3 separate regions of the Homo sapiens genome follow, and all the other regions are linked to region 2. The links come from fine-mapping of genetic effects on gene expression. A gene starts in region 2. Each other region holds a variant in brackets. All regions are shown on one strand. Distances are from middle to middle. Region 1 overlaps ATG14 (autophagy related 14). Region 2 holds the start of FBXO34 (F-box protein 34). Region 3 overlaps LOC107984708 (a long non-coding RNA gene).

Region 1 (2,500 bases), 100 kb before region 2:
ACTGTTTGCCAAGGAAAAGAAAAAGGGGAGAAAAGAAATGAAGTGCAAGGAGAAACTTGAGAAGAGGGTGCTCAGAGCTAAAAACTGCAGTGGCCATTAGTTTGCTGGCAGAGAAATTCAAGGGGCAGTAGAAAGTCCTACTCCTTTCACCCTTGCAAAATACTGACTTCTGGGCAGGGTGGGGCCTAGTAAACTTGAGAGCACCCCTAGTCTGAGGGGCTCTTTGTTTTTTTGTTTGTTTTTTGAGACAGAGTCTCGCTCTGTCGCCCAGGCTAGAGTGCACTGGCGCCATCTCGGCTCACTGCAAGCTCCGCCTCTGGGGTTCACACCGTTCTCCTGCCTCAGCCTCCTGAGTAGCCGGGACTACAGGTGCCCGCCATCACACCCAGCTAATTTTTTGTATTTTTAGTAGAGACAGGGTTTCACTGTGTTAGCCAATGGTCTCGATCTCCTGACCTCGTGATCTGCCCGCCGCAGCCTCCCAAAGTGCTGGGATTACAGGTGTGAGCCACCGCGCCCGGCCTGAGGGGCTCTTGGAAAATGTAAATTGCTCACTGGAGACCAAGTGGGAAACCCCATGGCGTATCTTCCAATTTAATAAAGCCCTAAAAACAGTCCCTGGAGCATAAATGTTAGCTATTATTATTGCTTAATCCATCTGGGAAGCACAGGTGTCTGGGAGGAATGAGGGCTGCTTGCTTCTGTAAAAAGTGAGTCAACGGTGCAGACCTGGTGAGGTGCGTTGGAAGCCAGTGCTAGCCATTCATCATTGTGAAGGCTGTGGAGAATTTGGGACCATAGGCTGAAATGGCAAGCTATACGATTCTAGGCTCTCATTTCTGCCTGCTATTTATTTCGACCTCTCCTATTTTCCCCAAAGTCGTTATCAGTGAAACCCTTAAATGAACCAAGGCATCGTGTGCTTATCTTGGGGGCAGCAGCAGGGAGAGAGCGGCACCTTGGTCCCACCCTGTAGCTGGTTGCAGGGCAGTTCCCTGGAAGGCAGTGGGTGGGGGTGGCTGCCTACAGGGAGGACATGCAGCCTGGCTGCCCTGGAGCAGGAGCTGAGGGGCATTTGAAAGGGAGGGGAAAAAGAAGCAGAAAGGCGGCCGGGCGTGGTGGCTCACAACTGTAATCTCAGC[G/A]TTTTGAGAGGCAGGGGTGGGTGGATCACTTGAGGTCAGGAGTTCAAGACCAGCCTGGCCAACGTGGTGAAACCCCGTCTCTACTAAAAATACAAAAATTAGCCGGGCATGGTGGCAGGTGCCTGTAATCCCAGCTACTCAGGAGGTTGAGGCAGGAGAATCGCTTGCACCTGGGCGGTGGAGGTTGCAGGAGCCAAGATGGCGCCACTGCACTCCAGCCTGGGCAACAGAACGAGACTCTGTCTAAATAAAAAAAAAAAGAAATGCAGAAAGGCTTCTGAGGTTTGCTGACTCGGTTCCCTGTGCTGAGGTGCCAGCAAAGAGGATGAGGCCTAAGAAAGGGTTATTGGACTTGGCAGTGAGGGTGTTATTAGGGACCTTTGAGAAATAAAAATTGTTTTCTCCTGAAATACAGTGCAGAAATATACAACATTGCCTCTGAATATATTCTAAACAGTTGTGCCTCATTCTGTGCTAGAAATGTGTCCTAGAAAATTGTGGTGATATTTTTAAATATGTACAGGAACCCACTGAGTTTTCTTTGTATACCATTTATTACTTATTACACTAAATAATATCCAGAGTATACATCAAGTGGCTTTTTGTTAGAATTGTCTCATTGGAGTGCCGTGTATTTACTTCGTAGACACTGCAGTTCTTTACAACAGGAAGTCAGACTTAGGACCAGCATGGGCCATCTCAGTGAATAGGTTTTTTTCCTATGCACGGTCATCACCAATGAAGTAGGCAGACTTGTGGGAAAGTGTGGTATCATGATTTTATTTATAACTTGGGTGGAGATTATTTGGGTAAAGGAAAACGCAATCATATGTCAACACGGAGTGCTGCATAGACTTGGGGAATGAATGGGGTGTGCGGCGTCCCTCATCCCCTCAGGTGAGGGCCTTCAGGAAGATGGCATATTTTCTGGTGTTGAGAATGGTTGTTATCCTAAAGAGACCCTCATTGTCTGCACACAGGTCAGGGCCCTTTGAAGTACGAGCAGACCTTGAGGAGTCCATGGAATTTGTGGATCCCGGAGTTGCTGGAGAATCAGATGAGAGCGGAGATGAGCGCGTCAGCGATGAAGAAACCGACCTGGGCACAGACTGGGAGAACTTGCCTAGTCCCCGGTTTTGTGATATCCCTTCCCAGTCTGTGGAAGTCTCCCAGAGTCAGAGCACCCAGGCGTCCCCACCCATCGCGAGCAGCAGTGCAGGTGGGATGATCTCCTCTGCAGCAGCCTCGGTGACCTCCTGGTTTAAAGCTTACACTGGACACCGTTAACGAGCATGGACCAAAACATACCAAATCTGCATCAAGAAAGTTCTTCTCCCACTACACTCTAGTAAACATTT
Region 2 (2,837 bases):
GCAAACTGATTTATCAACACTAGAAGTGGTTCTCTTTTTTTTCAGTAATTCTGATTGCAAACTATCAAACTACGAATTTAGCTTCCTAAAAGGCTTTTTACATTACACCCTCCAAAAAACCTCCTACCCTGACTTAAGTTTTTCTAAATCAAATGTCTTATACTGAGCTGTACTCGCAACGCTTGCTGGACAAGAAGTTAAAGAAATTGACAACTATTACATTAAAATTGCAAAATGCTGATACCGAACAACTTTCGATTCAAATCCACTGCGATTCCAAGCGTTCGTGGAAGACAACTTCCTTTTTCTACCCTGCGGGTCCCCCCGGCCCTTCCGTGAGCCCAGGTCCCCGCCCGGGCCTGCAGTGACATCCCAGGACCCATCTTCTGACGTCACAGACACACGGACCCACAGCCCTATGACTTCATCGTGGACTGAGGACGAACCGCAGTCGACTTGCGCCAGCCCAGAGGCTGGGGAGGCGTCCGAGCCTCCGTCCCGCCTCGTCGTTGAAGAAGGTTAAGGACAAGCGCCAGCTCACCTGCGCTGGGGCAGGGAAGGGCAGAGTGGCCGAGCCCGGGAGGGCGCGACAGGGGCGAGGCGACCCCAGTCCAGAGGCTGACTTCCTCACCGCCCTGGGTCCCGTAAGTGGGAGCGCCGGTCCGGTGCAAGCTCACGGCCTATCCGTGAATCTCCTCGGCTTCAGCGGGGACCCAGGACCCCGCTCCCTACCCGCCCGACCCTCCGTGGCCCGCGGGGACGCTCAGCGCCCGGGCCGTGCGCGCGGAAAGAGCCGCACCGGAGGAGGCGCAGGCGGCCGGGTCCCTACCCCGGACCCGCGGGCGGCGCCCCCGCCCCCACCCCCACCCGCCCCGCGCCCCGGGAGCGCAGGCAGGCGGCGGTAGGGGGCGGGGAGCGGCCACGGTGGCCGCCGCCGGACCCCAGTCGCGCGGCCCTCGCGCCACGCCCCACCTCGGCCCGGACCCACCTGCGCTCCTGCCCCGGCCGCGGCCTGGCCCGGGGCTGCACCAGCCCGACGCAGTGGTGGCGGCAGCAGCGGTGGCGGGAGGCCTGGCTCACTCCCCACCGCTGAGTCGGACCGAGCACCCAGCGCGGCGCGGCGGCGCCCAACGCTCGCCCCGAAACCCATTTGTTTGGCTAAAACGGAGTGACGTCACGCGCCGGCCCAATCGACGGTTGGCCGGGGGAGGGGCCACGGATCCAGAGTTTCACGGCGCCCCCTGCCGGACACTGGGGGCGGGAAGGGGGAAGTGAAAAGGGAGACCTGGATGACGCGTCTGCGGCCCCCAAGTGGTAGAGAATGAAAGTTTGAGCACGACTGTAGGGAAAGGAATCAAACCTCCCAGGCCAGCCAAGAAGGGTAGTGACGCCAGGGTTCAATCAGCAGACATGTCAAGTTTATGAATATTCGTGGGTGGACCTGAAGCTGTAAATGGTCTCAGATACTATTAGATAACCTAGTAGACCTGGATCCTCATACTGGTTCTGCTGCTAGCTTGGAAGGCTGGGGTTCAGAGTTTCAATTTGTAAAATGACAAAATTGGAAAGGTCCCTTCTGACTCTCTTTCCTATGAAAATCATGGCAGGGATACCGGTCAGAAAGTAGATAAACGTTGAGGCTGACACGAAACTGTTAAAGTCTGTAGAAGCTTAAGGGCTGGTTAATGATGGATATAAATTTTTAACACTTTATATTCAAATCAGAGGGCCAGTGAGGAACTTTTGATTCCCAATCTTTAAGCTTATTATTGTTTTCATTGTGAAAATAATATTAACCACATTGAAAAACATGAGGACAATGTATTTTCTTCTAGACCTTTTGCCCCATCACATATATTTTACTACACTGTAATAGTAGTTGTACGCGATTTTGCATCCTCTTTTCACTTTTATAAGCATTCCTCATATTTCCACATAAGCTTCATAACCAGTTTAACAGCTGCATAAAATTACATTAAGTGGACATAAAATTTACTGCAGTAATTCTCTATTTTTGGACATAACTTGTTTCCTTCATTCACTTTTTGCCATTATAAAGAAATCATAGAACATCTTCATGAATGTAGATTTTTAAAGATACCCAAAAGTGAAATTACTAGGTGAAAAAGACTATCAACACTTTCACAGTTACTAATACAAACTGCCAAATGATTTTTAAAAGGTTGTACCAAGTTACACTTAAACCAGCAACTTTGATTTTAGCCAGTCCTTAACAAAAATAATTTTGTCCAATTATAAAACTACTGTTGTAAAATATATGTGTAAAATCTTAAATATTAAAACGTAAAAACAAAATAAAAATATTTCCCATAATCTCATCACCAAGAAATAACCACTCAGTATCTCCATCTAGACCTTTATCTATATACATATTTTTAATAAAAATTGGAGAGGGGAAGTCCAGGCACGGTGGCTCACATCTCAAAAAGGAAAAAAAAAATTAAGGAAGGGTGTTATATGGTACACCGTGGCATCAAACTGTATGTCTGATTTAATATGTGAGCAATATTAGCTCAATATATCATGATCATTTGAAGCTTCTTTATGTCATAGTTAGCTCAAAATTGTAAAACTTCAGTTTATCCTTTCAGATTCATCTCAAACACTGTCCTTCTTAAAACCTCTTGATTCCTTCTGGGCATGGTGGCTCACGCCTGTAATCCAAGCACTTTGGGAGGCCAAGGCATGCAGATCATTTGAGGTCAGGAGATCAAGACCAGCCTTGCCAACATGGTGAAACCCTATCTCTACTAAAAATACAAAAATTAGCCCGGTGTGGCAGGGCACGCCTGTAGTCCCAGCAACTTGGGAGGCTG
Region 3 (2,851 bases), 68 kb after region 2:
GCCTCAGCCTCTGGAGTAGCTGAGATTACAGGCGTGTGCCAACACACCTAATTTTTGTGTTTTTTGTAGAGACGGGTTTTCACCATGTTGGCCAGGATGGTCTCAAACTCCTGACCTCAAGTGATCCTCCCACCTCAGCCTCTCAAATGCTGGGATTACAGGCATGAGCCACCACGTCTGGCCATTTTTCTTATTTTATATAAATTTATATATAGCTTGAATTTTTCTATTTTGTTGTCAATGATTTTCTTTAATGTTTTTATAATTTCTAAATTATCTGATTCCTTATTACTCAGTAATTCCCCATCTGGGGTTCTCTCTTGAAAAATGATCAGAAACTTGGACACCCTGAAAGGGATCACAGTTAGGTGGAGATGGTAGTGGTGAGGAGGGAAGTGGGGATTCACTTTCTAACGTATACATTTTGCATTGTTTGCCAGGTGTTTTTACTTCTTTCCGTTTTTAAAAATTGTTTGGTTTTTTGTTGTTATTTTTTGTTTGTTTGTTTTTTGAGACAGGGTCTCACTCCCATCACCTAGGCTGGAATGCAGTGGCTTGATCACAGCTCACTGCAGCCTCAACTTTCTGACTCAAGTGATCCTCCCACCTCAGCCTCCTGAGTAGCTGGGACTACAGGTGCATGCCACCATGTCTGGCTAAGTTTTGTATTTTTTGTAGAGAGAGGATTTTGCCATGTTGCCAGGCTGGCCTCGAACTCCGAGGCTCAAGCAATCCTCCCGCCTTGGCCTCCCAAACTGCGGGATTATAGGTGTAACCCACCATGCCCAGCCTAAAAATAGTTTTTTAAAAAATTACAGTACTCCCCTCCCTCATTATAAAGACTTTAAAAATGAGGAAATACTTTAGTGATATAAAAAAGCAGCCTCAACAAAAATCAACATTTTAAAGTATGTTAATTAGAGGATTATTTATAATAGGAAAATGTAAAATAGCTAACAAAAAGAGATTGATTTGTAATATATAATATGTTTAAAACAACAAATTGGACAGATGTTAAAGAAAATGATGTTAACAAAATATTTTTTTAATAACTGGAAAATGTAACATTTAATTCGTTCATTGAGGACTTATAATTAGATTCAGCTATTTGCAGTCATTTTTAAGCTATTATTTATTGTACAAAAACCATTATTAGAACACAAAGTAGAAATTAAAATACAAGAAAGGTTCATACAGTTGTGTCACATCACACGGTAAGTTCCAGGCTTTGTCAGCACGTGCACATAACTTTTAAATAATTGTCATTTAACAACTTTGTGCTTACATATTTTCAGAGGTGTTTTAGGAGGTGTGAGCTTAAATTTTAGAGATTTTCAATTAAGAAGTGTTTTTAATCATATTATGTGAGTTTACAGCATCATAAAAATATTTGTCACTATGTAAAACATCTACATAATAAAAATATCAATCAGCATATTTATTGCATTTCTGCTATGCTTTCTCAGATGGTTCCTAAGGGAAGAATTATTAACAGCCTTTGATGATTGGTGGAAGAAAGCAGCAATAAATGGATGAATAAAGAAAACTTTGGATGAGTTCTACTTTGTTAAAATCTCAAAAGGAACATGTAGTGGGGAAAAAGGCTGATTCAAAGCAATGGCTCACAATGTTGTGAATTAAGTGAAATCTTATCCATGTTTTAAGCAAGTGGTACTGATTAGGAAACATCTTTTTTTTTTTTTTTTTTT[G/TG]AGACAGGATCTCGCTTTATCACCCAGGCTGGAGTGCAGTGGTGCAATCATGGCTCTCTCCACCCTCAACCTCCTGGGCTCAAGCCATCCTCCCACTTCAGCCTCCTGAGTGGCTGGGACTATAGATGCACACCGACATGCCTGACTAAGTTTTTTGCACTTTTTTTGGTAGAGACGAGGTTTTGCCATGTTGCCCAGACTGGTCTTGAACTCCTGACTCAAGCAGTCTGCTGCCTTGAGCTCCCAAAGTGCCGGGATTATAGGCATGAGCCACCACACCTGATGGGAAACATGTTTTGTTTTCTTCATAGACTCCACCAGTTTATAGTTGTGATCAATTACATTAAAATTTTTCATTCATACTAATTGTGTGTGTGTGTTTGTTTGTGTGTGTGTGTGTGTGTGTGTGTGTGTGTAGAGAGATGGCATTTTGCCATGTTGCCTGGGCTGGTCTTGAACCCCTGAGCTCAAGTGATCCTCCTGCCTTGGCCTCCCAAAGTGCTAGGATTACAGGGATGCACCACTGTGCCCGGCCATTCTTACTAATTGTTGACAGCAAAACTTCTTGCTCTTTATTTTTCAACATTTTAATTAAAATGCATATAGTTTCTTTTCTTTTTCTTTCTTTCTTTCTTCTTTTTTTTTCTCTTTCTACTCTCCTGTTAACTCACAAAACAACGTAGAGTTTCTACTGGTAATAATTCAAGGACATTGTTGTTATTGTTGTTGTTGAAAATCTTTATTTTCCAGATGAGGAAACCAAAGCTCAGGAAAGATTAAGTCACCTGCCCAAGGCCACATAGATTAAAACGTGGCAAGATTGGTATTTGAACCAGTCTGTGGGGCCCAAGCCCACACCCTCTCCACACTAATTTTCACAACAATCTGATAAAGTAGATGTTGATATGATCTCCACCTTACAGATGAAGTTTGAGAACAAGATTTGAGCAGCTCCACGACTATAGCTCAGGGTGGACAAACTAAAACTCCACTCTCAACCTTTATGTTATCAGTATTTCTTGAATGAATGAATGAATGATTCCTTTTGCTCCTTTTGTAACCAAAAGACAGACTCAGTCACTCACCACTTGCTGAGTCCAATTAAGAGTGAGGCCTGTTATAAAGAAAGTGACCTTTGTTCC

Evidence for each region.
Region 1: its variant is fine-mapped to the expression of FBXO34 in whole blood (INTERVAL, PIP 0.95).
Region 3: its variant is fine-mapped to the expression of FBXO34 in whole blood (INTERVAL, PIP above 0.99).

The regions. Positions count from the first base shown.
Region 1 is chr14:55,369,548-55,372,047 of GRCh38, reverse strand. It overlaps ATG14 (autophagy related 14), which reads left to right. Exons shown (of 10, transcript NM_014924.5): 10 at 2,123-2,500. The coding sequence ends at 2,429. It also overlaps a transcript of FBXO34 not described here. Among named protein-coding and RNA genes, the nearest start is that of ATG14, 41 kb to the left of the region's middle. The variant G/A (reference allele first, on the strand shown) is at 1,143.
Region 2 is chr14:55,269,689-55,272,525 of GRCh38, reverse strand. It overlaps FBXO34 (F-box protein 34), which reads right to left and starts at 1,105. Exons shown (of 2, transcript NM_017943.4): 1 at 989-1,105. FBXO34-AS1 (FBXO34 antisense RNA 1) reads left to right here and starts at 448. Exons shown (of 2, transcript NR_184222.1): 1 at 448-644. RefSeq lists a silencer at 554-1,053.
Region 3 is chr14:55,201,867-55,204,717 of GRCh38, reverse strand. The region is part of intron 1 of LOC107984708 (a long non-coding RNA gene); the gene reads right to left. Among named protein-coding and RNA genes, the nearest start is that of DLGAP5, 12 kb to the right of the region's middle. The variant G/TG (reference allele first, on the strand shown) is at 1,710.